2 separate regions of the Homo sapiens genome follow, and region 2 is linked to region 1. Evidence: fine-mapped expression QTL. A gene starts in region 1. The other region holds a variant in brackets. All regions are shown on one strand. Distances are from middle to middle.

Evidence for each region. PIP is the estimated chance that this variant, and not a neighbour inherited with it, causes the effect.
Region 2: its variant is the best candidate, but not a certain one, in a credible set for the expression of EYA2 in aorta (GTEx, PIP 0.65).

What each region holds. Positions count from the first base shown.
Region 1 is chr20:46,889,965-46,898,302 of GRCh38, forward strand. EYA2 (EYA transcriptional coactivator and phosphatase 2) reads left to right here and starts at 4,879. Exons shown (of 16, transcript NM_005244.5): 1 at 4,879-5,023.
Region 2 is chr20:46,946,218-46,954,555 of GRCh38, forward strand. The region is part of intron 1 of EYA2 (EYA transcriptional coactivator and phosphatase 2); the gene reads left to right. Among named protein-coding and RNA genes, the nearest start is that of EYA2-AS1, 49 kb to the left of the region's middle. The variant C/G (reference allele first, on the strand shown) is at 3,522.

The DNA.
Region 1 (8,338 bases):
AAGTCATTTGGTTTCTTTCTCATAGAAGAATTAAGAATCATGAACACTGGCTGGGCACAGTGGCTCACGCCTGTAATCCCAGCACTTTGGGAGGCCGAGGCAGGCGGATCACCTGAGGTTGGGAGTTCGAGACCAGCCTGACCAACATGGAGAAACCCCGCCTCTACTAAAAATACAAAAATTAACTGGTCATGGTGGTGCATGCCTGTAATCCCAGGTACTCGGGAGGCTGAGGCAAGAGAATCGCTTGATCCCAGGAGGCAGAGGTTGCAGTGAGCCGAGATTGCATCACTGCACTCTAGCCTGGGCAACGAGAGTGAAACTCTGCCTCAGGAAAAAAAAAAAAAAAAGAATCATGAACACTATGGAGCACTTTGAAATCCATGATTCTTAATCTTGACTCTGCAGAGCTTTGGGGGTTCCTTCAAGACCTTTACACATACCTACAGGAGAAAGGGGTGAGGCATAAGGCTGTGGCTGGGAACCCTCACCTCCTTTTTCCATACTGAACTTCTATACATACTAGATTTTAAACAAAGGAAAGTTTGAAAGCCACTGATGTAACTGATCACATTTCTGTCCTTGCAGTGGCTGCCTGGAAGCTCAGCATCTAATTCTCAGTTCTCCACTGACAAGTGTCCAGGACCTTCTAGCTCACATTTTGTGTGCAAACCTTACCTTGACTTTCTTTTGTTTTCTTTCCTGTTTCCCTGTTGTCTGCTTTTCTTGTTTTCTTTATTCTGCTGCCATATATATGGTTTTATATGTTGCCTCAAATCCTTTTTGGAAAGAGCCAAGGTTTAAGTGAATGTATTTTAAAAAATTGAATGCTTTTTCTGTAGAGGTGACCTTTGCAGGTGGGAAAGGAATATGTTTAGAAAAAAGGCATGATTTGTAGAATTCACATGTGTGTTTGTAGGATATGTATATACATATCCTACAATGAATATACATACATTGGATATATTGTGAGGTTCATAGTTTTCAAAATTAATGTGTTTTTCTGGCTTTAGAGGGCATTTACTTGGAAGACTGGAGTGGGGGAAATGTGTTTTACTCCAAGGTAGGCATGACTGTGGACTACACCACAAAGAATCTGCTGTATGGCTTAGCACTTTCAAATTTTGTTTGGGATCATTTTGCTGGTTGTTATCAAATGAGGACAAATACTTAACAAAGAGATAGCAAGGGAAGAAAGAGACAGAAAGGGGGTGCTTCTACATAGGAAGGTGGCTGAATTTTCAGGGTCTTGAATTAGCATTGGGGGCTTAAGTCCTATCAGCTTCTGCTCATCTGCTGTGACTCTGTGGTCAAGGTCTCACTCTCCCAAAGATAGGGATTCTCTTCCTCTGCTGTATATTGGAATCACCTAGGGAGCTTTAAAAAAGGATGATGCCGGCCAAGCACAGTGGCTCACGCCTGTAATCCTAGCACTTTGGGAGGCCAAGATGGGTGGGTCACCTGAGGTCAGGAGTTCAAGAGCAGCCTGGCCAACATGAAGAAACCTTGTCTCCACTAAAAATACAAAACTTAGCTGGGCGTGGTGGCACATGCCTGTAATCCCAGCTACTTGGGAGGCTGAGGCAGGAGAATTGCTTGAATCCAGGAGGTGAAGGTTGCAGTGAGCCAAGATCACACCATTGCACTCCAGCCTGGGCGACAGAGTAAGGCTCCTTCTCAAAAAAAAAAAAAAAAAAAAAAAGGCAGATGCCACAGTTCCACCCCAGAGTCTGGTTTAATTGGTCTAGGATGGGGACTCAGCATGGAGATTTTTAAAAGCTCTCCCTGGAGATTCTGTGCACCCAGAGTTGAGAATCACAGCGCTAAGAGAAGGAAAAATAAAATTAATAAGCACCTGCCTCCTGCTTATCTCTCAGGGTCGTTGGGGTGTGTCTGTAATTTATGAAATAATGGGCCAGATTCTGGGGAAGGAATAAAATGGTATGAAGGAAATAGATTAACCCTTTGCATTCTATAGGGTACCTTTGGTTAACAAGTGTTCAAGATTTTTCCCCATGAGCCACAGGAAGAAACATTTCACATCCTGACCAAAGATATAGATATAGATATGGATATAGATATAGATACAGATACATGTGTGTATATATATATGTATGTATGTATACGTATATATGATATACGTATACATATATACATATATATCTCTCCATTGTAAATTGAAAATATCCTAAGTTCAAAATGCATTTAATACGCCTAACCTACTGAACATCATAGCTCAGCCTAACCTACCTTAAATGCACTCAGAACACTTGCATTACCTCGCAGTTGGGCAAAATCATCTAATACAAAGCCTATTTTATAATACAGTTTTGAATATCTCATGAAATTTATCAAATATTTTGCTGAAAGTGAAAAATAGAATGGTTGTATGGGTATCTCAATTGTGGTTTCTACTGAATACACATCACTTTCACATCGTCATAAAGTCAAAAAAATCATTAAGTGAAACCATCATAAATTGGGGACCATATGTATACATTTAACTATATATAGGGGATCATATGTATATATGTAACTATATATGTATAGGTATGTATATATATTCTTACTGCATACAATTCACTTGATATTTCCTATTCCAGTCTATTCCTTTAGGAAAAAAAAATTAAGGTTCACAGGCCAAGACAAATTAAACACCTCTGAAGGTCATTAAGATGCTCAATTTATAATGACTTGGAGCACTTAGCAAAGATACTATGGGAAGTGAAGCTGTGTGTACAGTAATAATATTTGTTGAGCAATTGCTAGTGCCAGCTGCAGTCATAGTAGAAAGTGTTTTATGAGCATGAGCTCCATGAATTTTCACAATAATAGTATAAGATGAGTACTGTTATTTTCACTTTAGTGATGAGAAAATCAAGGCCAAGTACATATGTACATTCTGCCTCTAGAAGACAGAAGCAGAGCCATCTCCAAGCCTACTGCGGCAGGCCCAGAGAAGAGAACAACCATGTTTACTGAATACATTTGCTTCTGTCTGAAGTTTGGGGAGTAGAAAGCGGAGTAAGCTATGACCAGAGGTGGGTCTGGGAATGGTGAGGCCTGATACATGTATAATTTGCAGCCCCTATTCAAGAAAAAGAGTACAAAATTATGAGTCCAAGATTAGATAAGAAAATGATTATTTCTTTAAATTAAGAAAAGAAATCACAACAAATTCAAATTTTAAGAAGCTGAAAATTACCACAAACATCACAAAATTCCCAACTCAACTTTCCTCCAAAATGCCAGCAGCCACCTGACACCACCCTACTCAAGGGCAAGTTGGGGGTGGGGAATCGGAGTGGAAAGACAGCGGTGTCTACGGCCTGCAGCCAAATGTCCAAAGCAAAGGACTTTTGTAAACTTTACATCAACAAGCCACCATCTGAACACTTTTCTAAGTCCCCTTAGAAAGGGGTCCAAGCAAGTCAGGGGCCCAAGAACTTAACCTTCATCAGCTCCTGTAAACTTACAACTGGAATTGAAGACTGTTACGGCTCAAGAGCAACGGCTTTGGAGTCAGCCAGGCCTGAATTTCATTCCTGGCTCAGCCACTTTCTGCCTTCTTTGAGCTTGGACCTGCTCATTTGTGAAATGAGTGTGCTGACAGCAGCTACCTTGGGGTCTCTCTTGGGGATTACATGAGATAAGGAAGAGTTGGGCATTGGATGAGCTTAAGGTTGCAAATAAAAATATAGGACCCCCGGTTACATTGGAATTTCGGAGACAAAAGAAATACTTTTTAAATATAAGTACGTACAACCAATCGCATAAGACATATACTGCAACTGATTCCTCGTTTCTCTGAAATTCAAATTCACCTGGGTGCCCTGTCTTTTACTGCACTTAAGAAATGACAGTGGTTGATATTGCTTTTGGATTGAAGCATCCTGGGTGTCCCACGGTGGAATTCATAGACATTAGAGAGTGGGTGACGGGCTAGGAAAGGCTGCATAGACTCCAATTAACACAGTTCATTGCCAGGGAGACTAAAAGGGGGGTGGCTATGAGAGGATGGAGTAAGTGGGGTGCCTTGATTTGGGCATGTAGGTGGAGGGGGCTATACCTCTCACTTTCACTAAACCAGTTAAGCTCTTGAGACCTCAGTTTCCTTAGCTGTAAAATGGGTGAAACATAGGGGAGACCCCTGAACCGTTCTCACCTAAATACCACACCAATGGCACTTCCTCATAATTCAGATGTCACCTCCTCAGAGAGGTCTTCCCTGACTGCTCTAGCTAAAATTACCGCCTCTCCTCCACTCCCCAACAGCAGATACATATATTATTTTTCTCCCTGTAACTCTAACTTTCTGAAACTGTCTTGCTTCTTTACTTGGTTATTTGTTTATGGTTTGCCTCTCCATGTGAATGCAAGTTCCGGGAGGGCAGAAAACTAGTCTGTCTTGTTCTAGCTGAGTCTCTCAGGAGTGGTACCTGGCACAGTAGATGCTCAATATATTTTGAATGAATGAATGGGTGGTTGAGTGAACGAATGTTAGTGTCACTATTGAGGTCCTCTCCGAGCCGTCGTTCCTTTCACAGGGGTCATGCCTGGGTTGCAGGGAGGATGTGCTGCCCCGGGGAGGGAGGAGGTGCGGGGTGTCGGTGGGTGGGGAGGAGGCTGGGCCCTGGCCTCCAGGACCGGCGAGAGTGAGCGCGCTCTGCTCGGCTGCAGGCTCAGGAAGCGGCGCGGCGGCACGTGCTGGGCCAGAGCCCCGCGCCCTGCGTCCAGCCGCCGGGTGTGTGCGCCCGCGTAGCCCAGCGTCGCGCCTCGGCGCCCCCACGCGCCCACGCAGCGGCGCGGGGACCCGGGCGGGGGCAGAGGGAGGGCCCGGCCCAGGGAGGAGAAGGGGCCGGTCCTCCCGGCGCAGGCAGCAGCCGCGGCAGCCCAGGAGGCGGAGGCAGCGGCAACGGCAGAGACAGCAACGTGCCCGCCGCAGTCAGCCCGGCCTCGTCGGACCCGCACCGGCCCGCCCGCCCGCCCGCACCGCGTCGGGGCGCCCTCTCCACTGCGCGCGGTGAGTACCGCCAGCGGCGCCCACCCCAGGCCGCCCGCCGGGATTCGCCGGGCGGGGGGAGTTGTTCACCGGGACCCCCTCGCCCTGCGCCTCTTTCTGGCACTCGCCAAGCGGGGCCTCCGCAGCTGTCGGGACGTTCTGGGGCGCACGGGCCTCCCAGGGCCAGGAAGGCACAAGGGCAGAGGGGACAGCAGCAGAGCCCCCCTCTGGAAAGGCTCTCCCAGGCTCGGGGCCCCAGTTTCCCCATGCGCTTTGGGGCAACGACCCTGAAGTTTGCTCTCCCGCGCGCGGGACAAGTGCATGGCGCGCAGGCGGTGTAGACGCGGCTGGGTCCTTGGCGTTTTGTTCGATTATGGTCCCGGCGGTTCGCGATAAGGGGCGCTCCCCCAGTCCGCAAACTCAAGCCCTCAGGTAGTGTTTATGGGATAACCAAGAAGCAGAGCCAACCGCTGGAATCCCGGCTTGGGGCTGGAACGGCCCGCTGAGACTTTGCCTTCTAGCTATTGATATATTTCTTTTCAAAAGTCCGTTTGCGCTCGGCCCGCTCTGGTTCAGGTCTGGGGCTTTGAACCGGGGCAGGGAATCCTGGCGCCTGCTGCGGGTAGAGTTGAAACTTAGAAAAGTTTACATCCGAAGGGTGTTTAGAAGGCGGCAAGGATTTCGTTGTAATGGGAGAAAGTGGGAAATGGAATTGTTTTTTAGTCATGAAGTCTGGAGGTTAAACGGCCGTGCTGGCCCAGGCTCCTTCAATATATTCCTGCCTGCCTCCCCCCCAGCAATAAATAGTTTATAAGCTCAAGGAATACTAGGAAAGCGTGACTGGTGAACGTACTCCTATCGCAAAAGACTCAGTGCGCTTTTCTCAGCTGTTGAACTGGAAGCGCCTTTTGCAGTGCGAGGTTCCTGCTTCCCCGAAGCCGAGGCTGAGAGTTGACAGCGTGCACCCTGCCGCGGTCTGAATTCTTTTTAAAAAGCAAGACCGATGCTGCGTTTTTATGGATACCCTTTTCTTTTCTTTCCCCTTCCCCGAAATGCTATGTAATCTTCAATTACTTTTTAAAATATAACGTGGAGGTATAAATCACCCCGGTAAGAGGTACCTTTTAATTACGAGGTGCAGTGGAAGAGCTGAACATTGGAATCTAGCTGTTAGCGAGGGCGGAGGGGCAGGAGGATGATTTACAAACATCATGTAAGAATTTGAGCACTGAATTATGTTTGAGTTAGGGAGATCCCTTACAAAGGAAATTATAACCAGTGGACAATTGTATTTCAAACCGAATCTATTAATTTCATGAGCCGTTTCTTGATTGAGTGAAATGTCTGTGACCATAATAGATACAGAACTAGTAAGCACCTTACCAGACTATGACCCATTTGTTAGCAACTAACATACACATGTAACCATCCTGCTTACAAAAAAAAAAAGAGGTACACAAAGAAAGAGTGGGAGGAGAGAACCTCTTTTTCAAAATAATCTTTGTGAAAGAATCTTTCACAATTTTACTCGATAAATAAATGTTCATTTTTTCCACTTGTCTTTCTTCATCACCTTAAGCCCCTTCATCCTTTACATATCTTTGCATTTAGACACTCTCACACTTGGGTAAGTTCTTCTATAATTTATATAACAAATAACAAATGATAGTGGTTTGAATCTTGCTTTTGACTAAGCATTAAATTGTGTTTGTATTAAAAAAAATCTCCTTGCCTTCGTAGCAAACTCTTAACTTTTGCCATTGTGAAAAGACCAATGTGGTTAGATGCAAAAGAGCCTGAACTTTTTTTTACTTTAAAGCAGTTTATATGTCCCCATTCTCTTGTAACTTCAGCTTCACAATATCATTCACTATTTTATCTGAAAGGAATTGGCATTTTTCTTTTCTGTCTTAAAATAGCTCACCTGGTGTTGTGACCATGTGTATGAGAATACTCTATAAACACACAAATCACTTCCCCAATATCAGAAAAACTAAAGGAAATATAAAATAAAATAAAAAGATGTGTATCTCAATACTTTAGGATTTTTTTAAAAAGTTTTCATCACGTAAGTTTTAGAATCTTCTTTTCATGTCTTTTGTTTTGCATTAAACACATCATAAAGAGGTATGATTTGTTGACTTGTTATAGGATTACCATTTGGCAAAAACGCCCAAGACACGCTGTTTCAAATATGTGGTATTACTTCTGCTTTAAATTGCGTGTAAGAGATTGCAAACCTTGTTCCAGATGGATAAATTGATAAAATGCTAGCTGCTGTTGGGAGAATGGAAAAGCCCTCAGCAAAAAGGCTCTGTGGTGTAGCTAAGTACATTTTGAATTAGGGTGAGCAAGCTATGGAGACCCCAGCCGTTTGTGAAAAAATATACACAGTCCAAGCACGTCCACTTTAAGACGTTGTTGGATCCTCCGTGACAAGATGACTCCTTTCCCACAAAGAAGAAACCGTTTCCTTATTTTTTCAGTTACTTTTCCAAAGACAACTTGCATCGGGCGCAAGAGAGCAGAGTTATGCAGAAATCCAACCGTAACCAGCTCAGAGCGAGGACTCATTCTCTCTCCTTCCACCAGATGTTTTTTAGGTGTCCTCAGCTGGAATGCCCAGTTTGAAACTAATTAGGCCAGCAGTAAACTCCTTGTATAATAAAATCGCAGGCCGTAATGGTGAATAAGTGAGGTTCCCAGCCGCTTATGACAGATGCCTTTCTGGGCAGAGAGAGAAGAGAGCCTGTGGCTGTCAGGAGAAAATGAAGGGAGTGGAGGTGCCTTCTTTAGACACATGCCTTTCCTAAGTATCCACGCACATGATCGCAGAGCGGAGGAGTGGAAGTTGCGACTGGGGTAGAGTTTTGTCTTTGCTGGGCAGGCCTCCTTCATACAAAGATGCTTGGGGGAGAATCAATTATAAGTATTAGGCAGTGTCTTCAGGTCTTAGGTGTATGCTGTGTGTGTGTGTGCAAAGGCTTGGGGAGAAGGATTGGTGTCACGTGCGGGGCAGTGTAAAAAACTTAACTGCTTCCCACCTGGGCACAAAATGAAAAGAAAGACTGCCTGGCCTGACATAAATTCCTTGGGAGAGAGGAGAACCTGCTCCCCCAGAGACTTTTGATAAAGGGAGAATTCGCCTAATGATGTGGTTCCCCTTATCTGTGAGGTTTGTGAGGGTGAAGGAGTTGGTTAGTCTGTTACCTCCAAAGGCTGGACTTTCTGACTAAGACTGGGTTTTGTTGGTGGAAGGAACCGGGTTTTTTGGGTTTTTGTGTTGGTTTTTTTTTTTTTTGGTTGTTTTTGTTTTTGTTTTTTTTAGCTAACTGT
Region 2 (8,338 bases), 56 kb after region 1:
CTGCTTCCCTCCCTACTTCTAAGCTCAAAGCCCTAGGAGGTCTTGCCCGTGGAGACGAGGTACATGGCTTTGTGTTTTATTGCCATTTATTGTTCTTGTTATTTTAACATTTATGGAGCACGTTTTAGCTGTGAACTCATTTCTTGAGCATCACTGCGGTCAAAATCTCCCCAGGGTGCAGGGCCAAGGGTTACTTTGATTCTTTTTTTGGCTGTTGCCCTATTTACTTTATTAAAAATATCATTGTGCGAGGGGCTCCCTTTGTTCTAAGAACTTTTCTGGACATGACCCTGGGTCCACCCTAAGCCCCTGATTACCATCATTTGAACATGAGCCTGGGTATGAGTAAGGCCATATAGGCCAGCGGTCAGCAAACATTTTCTGTAAAGGACCATGTCATAAATATTTTTGGCTTTGGGGGCCTCTGCTGTAACTACTCAACTCTGCTCTTATCACATAAAAGCCGCCATAGACAGTATATAACTGAATAAAACTTTATATACAAAACCAGACAGCAGCCAGAATTTGGCCCATGGGCCATAGTTTACTGACTGCCCCCTCCCCACCCACCCAACGTAGATGATGGGGCTTTGTTCTACGAACTCCCTTTTAGTTCTTCCATAGATCTAAAGAGTCAGTTCTTCTTACTGCAGTTTTGGCCTGTTTCTACTTCTTTGTTTGATCCCCTAGAGCGTGAGTTGGCAAACTGAGGCCAACAGCTCAAACCTGGCCAGTTGCCTGTTTTGTAAATAAAGTTTTATTGGAAAGCAGCCACACCCATTCATTCTGTGTTATCTATGGCTGCTTTCCCACTACAACAGCAGAGCTGAGAAGTGGCGTCAGAGACCTCTTGGCCCCCAAAGCCTAAAATATTTCCCATCTAGCTCTTCACAGAAAAGCTTGCTGACCTCTACTCTAAAGAGTTGAGGAATGGCTGGCTGAGAAGCAGACTTTTTTTTGCATGTACATGAAGAGCATTACTAACCCTCCCAAACTCATCTTAGAACTTTTCTCCCAGGTTCTCTTGTCTAGTCTTTCAAATATTTTAGATGTTATTCTCTGGAATCTAAGTTTTTTTTTTTTTCCAAAGTTCCAGACCACTGTTTTTAAACAACTTTGGACTGTGATCCTCATAAAGGACATATTTTATATGTCACCCCTGTAATGACATACAATAAACTGCATACACACAGATGTCCCCACCACACACACAAACCACACAAAACACATACAGAAATGAAAGTTTTAAGAAACAATGCTTGCCTTACTATATGTGATAAGCTCTCGTATTTTCTATGAACACCAGTCAGGATCAGCTTGATGATGCTGTGGTAACAAGTAACCCCAAATCTGAGTGCCTTAAATCAACAGACATTTATTTATTGCTCCTGCTCCACGTTTGCCCTGGATCACTGGGGATCCTGAAGGAGCAGAACATCACACACTGATCTCCAAGTGTCTGACAAGAGTGGTACTCACCATTTCTTTGAATATTTCTTTGGTCAAAGCAGCTCACATGACCATAACTTTCAATAGAGTGAAGAAGTGCAGCCCTACTGTGGACCCAGAAGGTGAATCTGAGATATTTGGTCAACAGCATTAAGATAACTACCATATGGCTGGGCATGGTGTCTCCTGCCTATAATCCCAGCACTTTTAGAGGCCAAGGTGGGAGGATCTCTTAAAGCTAGGAGTTCCAGACCAGCTTAGGCAACATAGTGAGACCTCATGTCTACAAAAAGTTTTAAAACTAGCCTTGCATGGTGGTGCATGCCTGTAGTCCCAGCCACTCAGGAGGCTGATGTGGGAGGATCGCTTGAGCCCAGGAGGTCAAGGCCATGGTGAGCTATGATCTGCACTCCAGCCTGGGCAGCAGAGTGAGACCTTGTCTCAAAAAAAAAAAAAAGAAAAAGAAAAAAGAAAACAAAAGAAAAAAATTACTACCATATTAGTCTATCCCAGGAGTTGGCAAACTTTTTCTGGAAAGGGCCAAATGCTAACTATTTTTGGCTTTGCGGGCCATACCATCTCTGTCACAACTATTCAGTGCAGCAGTTGTCACGTAAAAACAGTCAGAGACAACATGTAAACAAATGGGCTTATCTGTGTTCCAGTAAAACATTATTTATAAAAGCAGGCGGTGGGCTGGGTTTGGCTCATAGGCTGTGGGTTGCCAACCCTGGTCTACTCTATTTCTTTTTTGAAAAACACTGGTCACAGCTCACTAAACTGATTTTATTAACCCATCTATGGGTGAGACTCTATAGTTTGAAAACCCCAAGTGACGATAAGCTGCATAAGATGAGGGACTAATATTTCTTATCAGCTGTATCCTCGGTGCCCAGTACAGGGTTAGTGCTGAGTAAACATTGTTGAAAGAAGCCACTGAAAATCCTCTCCAACTGTTTTTCTGGTGATAAATACTCTGTTCAAGATGCATACGTTATTGTGTTTCTCTCGTAAGGTTGCCTGGAAAAAAACAAAATAAAATAAAGCTGCACACATTATTGTTTAATTCGTAAAAGGTTGACCCTACTTTCAAGGTAACTGTCAGTTCCAAACTTAGAGACACAAGTATTATGTTCACTTCTCTAAGAGCACTGTTCTTCATTCAAGCTTGAGATGATCGCTCCATAAATGTAGTGTTGAAATCTATACTTGTGGAAACCCAGGTCATTGTATATCTGTTTTCTTCATATATATTTATTATTTATTGTGTCAGGGAAAATACATGCACTATCTCATTTAATTTTCTCAAAAATTGCAGGAGGTGGGTGCTAATGTTACTCGCATTGTACAGATGAGGAAACTGCAGCTCAGAGGAATATGCCCAGTGTCTTGGAGCTCAAGACTGGTAGAGATGGGATTGGAGCAGAGTCTCTGACTCCAGAATATGGGGTGTTTGATCATTTGGCTATGGTGTCTCTGGGACATGCCACCACATACCAAGACCTACTCAAGTGCAAGGTCTTTAAATGCTATTGGCAGTTGAGGCCATGTTTTAAGTCCTCTTAGAAAGACACTATATTGTGCTTCATAAGATGATACAAAACATACATGAGCCGGTTCCTTTTATGGGAAAATCTGAAGTTAACAGTGAGATTGGGGAGTGGGGAGGGTTTAACACTTTAACAGCTGTCCTGCTAAGTGTGAGAGTAAGTCAGGCCAAACCTAGTCTCACAGTCAAGACTTTCAGGTAAAAGTAATAGAGAACTCAAGTCAAACTGGTTCAGCAAGTAAAGAGAATTTAGGGGATCAAGGAACTGAGAGTCCAGGGTCAGAGCTCAGTTCAGGTATAGCTGGATCAGGGTTGCTGATGCAGTCAGGATTTCAGTTGTTTTCTGACTCTTGACTTGTTTTGTTCTTCTCCACGTTTTGGGTTTAACCTCAGCCTGCACATGGAGCTAGATGGTGGGGTAACTGAGCCACACCCTCTAAGGCACATAGTAGGTGCTCACCAAATATTTATTGAATGGATGGACTGCTCAAGATTGGCTTAAAAGCTTGATACTTTTATGTAG[C/G]TGTTAGGTTGGTATGCATTTTAAGATTTGTGTGTATCTGTCTGTGTGTAGCCCAGAGGTTAAGAGTGGAAGCACATTGCTTTGGTTGCAACCCTTGGCTGTGCCACTTACCCACTGTGTGACTTTTGGCAAGGGTCCCAACCCCAGTTCTGCACCTGCAACTGCCCTATGAAGTAGGTAGTATCATTTTGCATCTATGATGCACAAGGATAGCATGACACAAAGAGGCTGAGGTGCTTGCACAAGGTGATTTATGGAGCTGGGTGTGCACCTTGGCATTCTGGTTCCATAGCCTGTGTTTTTCTCCACTGTGCATGCAAAGTGCTCAACACAGTGCCTGGCACAGAGTAAGCTCCCAGTAATCAAAAGAGCCATCAATCCAGGCTCGTTTAAAGGTGGTGGTGGACAGGGCAAGGGTTTCTCCCAGGATAACATGTAGTGAAGCATGGAGTTGAGTGATATAAAAAATAATCACTTTCCTAGAGTCTGGGAGAACTGAATTATTATTTCCCAGCTGCCACTAATCTGCAGGGGGACCTTGCAGCGATGTTCCCCTCTCAGACAGAGACTCAATTTTCACAACCATAAAATAATCTAAGGAGTCTCAAGTACCCTTCTAGCCCTGATATTCTAAGAGTCTGTGACTTGATGATGCCTGTGAGTTTGGAGGTCTCATGGCTGGGCACTGAGTTTCCAAGATTGCACATGGTTTGGGGTGCTGGAGCTGTGGGGAAATCATGAGGAGTCACTCTGCAGCATCTGTTCCCTGCTCCTCCTTCTGGGTGCTCCTCCACCAAGGGGCAGGAAAGCCCAAACTCCCTTGCAGCTAGGTTTCTAGGAGTAATGGAACATTAAGCAGGCACATGCGCTTCCTTGAAATTCAGAAGGCGGAGGTCGTACTCAAATTGCCTCTGCCGTGTTGGTTGTTTCTGTCACTGTGCAGAGTCTGGAGTAGTTTGGCTTGCTGCACAGCTTTAGCAGAGGCCCCAGCGAGCAGGCACTAGCTTTATGTGTGTTGAGAGGCATGGTGTCTTTGTGTGGGTTCCCAAGAAGCTGACCTCAAGATCAGGGCTCCAGTGCCAATAGTTCATTTAAGAGGTGACTCCAAGAAACACCAGAATGGGAATAAAGAAGGAAGGCATGAAGCGAAGGAAAGTAACAGAGGGTGTGTGATCCAGCAGGTTACTCCCTGAGCATCTAAGGCTACACCCTGATGGGAAAGGGCTTATAACACGTGCCGCTGAGTAATCCCTCCTTAGGGGTGAGGGAGCTGGGGTCTTTATACCCCACATATGCCAGAAAGAGCCTTCAGGTAAAACATTGCACTTGCTGCCGTTTGGAAGTTGGATGGTTTTCATGGAAATGGTATTTGCCGAAGGGATTTAGGCAAGGTAGTGACAGCATCAGCCACGCAGGGCACAGGGCATCCTTGTTGCTTGTAAGGATTCTGGCAAGTGTGATAAGGTCATGAGGCTGGCACATTAGTGGAATGGTTTCCTGATAGAGATATCCACAAGGTGCCTATCATGGAGGGATTTTTTCTGTAACCAGCAGCTTTCTGGTCACAGCACATGTAGCAGTAACCAGTTGTCTGGTGTCGCTTTGGCATTCCCTAAAGCTTATCCTAGCGTCTGTGCCCCCAACCTCCCCAGAAATTCTCTAAGTCGTTTGCTAGCCTGAATTAACCCCTTCCTGCTTAAGCTAGCTGTAGTGGGTTCTACCCTCTGCAACTAAACTCTGGTTGATACCAGTTATAACCTACATCCTGGGTCTGCTGGACAAGCAGAAGAGTGCCAGTCACTGAGGATTAGAACAAAGTTCCCACAACAGCCCTGAAGGGCAACCGGGCTATGCACTTCTACATCATGGGCCACCAGGGAGCTGAGTAATAAAACCACTCTCAGGCGTCAGAGGACTCAGATTCTTGTCCCAGCTCCCCCACTAACCTGCTGTGGGACCTTATACAGGTAATTTTCGTCATCTGAACTTCAAGTGACTAATCTGTGGCCCAGGCAGGAGAGGATGGGGGCGAGAGTGTGGATTTCAGGATCAGATGGGCCAAGTTCAACCTCTCAGAGCCTAAGTTCCTTCATTTGTGAAACAGGGATAACAGGGTTCCCAGAGAAATATTCAGAAGCATCAGAGCCTCTCTGAAGAATTCTGCCACCTCCTGACATTGTCAGTTTCCCTCTCTCCCTCTTCCTTCCTCTCTCTTAACAAATATTTATTATGCTCCTACTTATACCAGGCATGACTATTGGTGTTGAAAGCCCACAAGTCTCTCTTTCTGTGAATCATAGTTTCTGGAGGGTAGAGACAGACAAGAAACAGACAAAGGCACGTGTGTAATGAATGTGTCCGGGGGTGAGAAATGCAATGGAGAAGAACTCCGCCGAGCAATGGGGCAGGAGTAGTGAGGGACCCTCCTTAAGGTAGGGTGGTCAGGGAGGTCTCTCTGGCAGAGGCCTGAGAGGGGCAGGGAGAGCCGTGGGCATGTCTGAAAGGAGAGCATGCTTGGTGGGGGATGGGGCTTGAGGGACCACCACTAGGAGGCCAGTGTGAGAGATGGAGGGTGGCGGGATCTGAGCTCCAGAAGTCAGGGGCGGGATCAGACAGGGCCTCATGGGTTGCGCTTGGCTCTTTAGATTTTACTCTGAGCAAGCCAGAAGCTGGCCTCATTTAACCTCCTTTTAGAAATCGGTGTGATGAATCAATAGCTTTGGCCGTTTGTTCATCAGTCATTCATTCATTCAACAAGGATTTGTTGAGCACCTCCTTTGTGCAGCTCTGTGCTTTTCTAGTTCCTCTGCTGAACAGTGAAGGGCAGAGCAAGCACCCACCGGAATAAGGAGGGAGTTGGGCATTTTGCTAGAGCTCCTGTTTGGTCCAGAGGCCGCACACAATGGAAAAGTAAAGCCTGGTCCCCTCCGCAGGCCACCCCGCACCTGGAGGCATCACCTGGAGCTCTTCCTGGCAGGCTGAGGCCTGCGAGTTCAGCCCCACTGGCTTCCCCGGGGCAGGGGTTGCCCACGCTTGCTGAAATAAGAACCTCATACCAGATCAGCCCCGCATCCCAAGCAGGGCACCCTAAGGATGCTTTTATGTAAGAGGTTGCATTCCCAATTATCTTAAGATGCAAAGTGAAGGTGTTTTGCCCAGGGAAACTCTCTATCAGGAGTCGTTGCACATCTAAACACATGAAAAATGAGACTTCCTGAAACATTCCTATTTCACCCTGTGACAGTTTTGCACAGCTCATAGAGTTCAATTTTCAAATGTCATCCCACTCTGAGAGACCCAATATTTGAAGTCGTGGAAATCTATCTTTAAAAATACTTTTAACAGCATTATTCCTAATATTAAAACTTGGAAAACACGAAAGGGAGATACTTGAGTTGTGATCATAGCAAATGTTCCTATAATATTTAGTGTGTGTCACTGATGCTTTACATATTCTAATTCGTTTCATCTTCATGACTACCCTCTGAGGCAGATGTACTGTTAACCCCACTTTACACATGGGGATGCTGGGGTCTGAGGGCTTGAGAACTCCGCGGGTTAACCCAAGAGTTATGGGACCTGGTTATGGAACCTCAGTGCTAAGGAAAGTGACACCATCATAGGTAGTGTTAGAACAAAATCTTGGGGAATGGTTATGTTTTCCTGTTCGGTGGAAAGGAAGCATCAACATAGAAGATTAGGTAGGAGCTCATGTACACTAAAAATGAAAGTAGATTAGAATGAGCCGGGTTGGAAGTGGGAGAAATGTCCCCAAACACAGGTTTAGAGTTGGCCTTGAGAACATCAGCGGTATGGACAGATGTACGGACACTGGGGCCTGATAATTCTTCCTTATGGCGCTGTCCTGTGCCTTGTAGGATGGTTAGCAGTATTCCTGGCCTCTCCCTCCCCAGTTCCTCTCCCTCCCCAGTTATGACAACCAGAAGTGTCTCTGGACATTGCCAACTGTCCACTGGGAAGTAAAATCACTGCCATTCAGAACCACCAGCACAGATGCTAAGATCATGGGTGGCATTTTTCTTTCCTTTTTCTTTTCTGTGGTTTCCAACTTTCCTTGAATAGGCATAGATCGCGTGAATAAGTAGGAGCAAAGGAGCTCTCGTTGGGATGACCATGCCACTCTCCTGTTCAGAACCTTCCAGCAAATTCCCAATACACTTAGCTTCCCCAGGGCCTACAAGGCCCTGTGTGAGCTGGCCCTTGGCTACTTCTTGGACATGTTCTTCTCTCCCTGTGACCCTTTCTCATCATGTTCCAACCACACGATTCTTCTTTCTGACATTCAGACACATCCAGCTCATTTCCATCCCAGGGCCTTTGCATGTGCTGCTCTGTCCTGTTGCTCTTTCCTACCTCCTCTTCACATCACTTGCTCATCCACTTCAGGGGTCTGCTCAAATATCACCTCCTCCGAGAGGCCTTCCCTGATCACCCTGTCATGAATATTTAAGCGCCTCCTGTTTATTGTAGGTCACCCCTACTAGAGCATCATCTCCAGGGGGACTGAGACATTGTTTAATTTGCTGTTCCATGCCTCACTCCTAGAACAACGATCGGCACATAGTAAAAGTTCAATAAATATTTGTGGAAGAAGGGAAACAGACAGGGAGGAAGGAAGGGGGGCAAATAAGAAAAATAAAATCGGTAAATTTAGGAGCTTACAGTAAAGAAGCAATGTCTCAACCCACACAGCTGTGTTTCTCTCTAAATTCCAACTCATTTTGACTTGTGGTTTGTGGACAAAAGATTTGCGTAGCACGCAGTCTCCTGGCAGCTCGCTCTCTTTGAGGGAACAC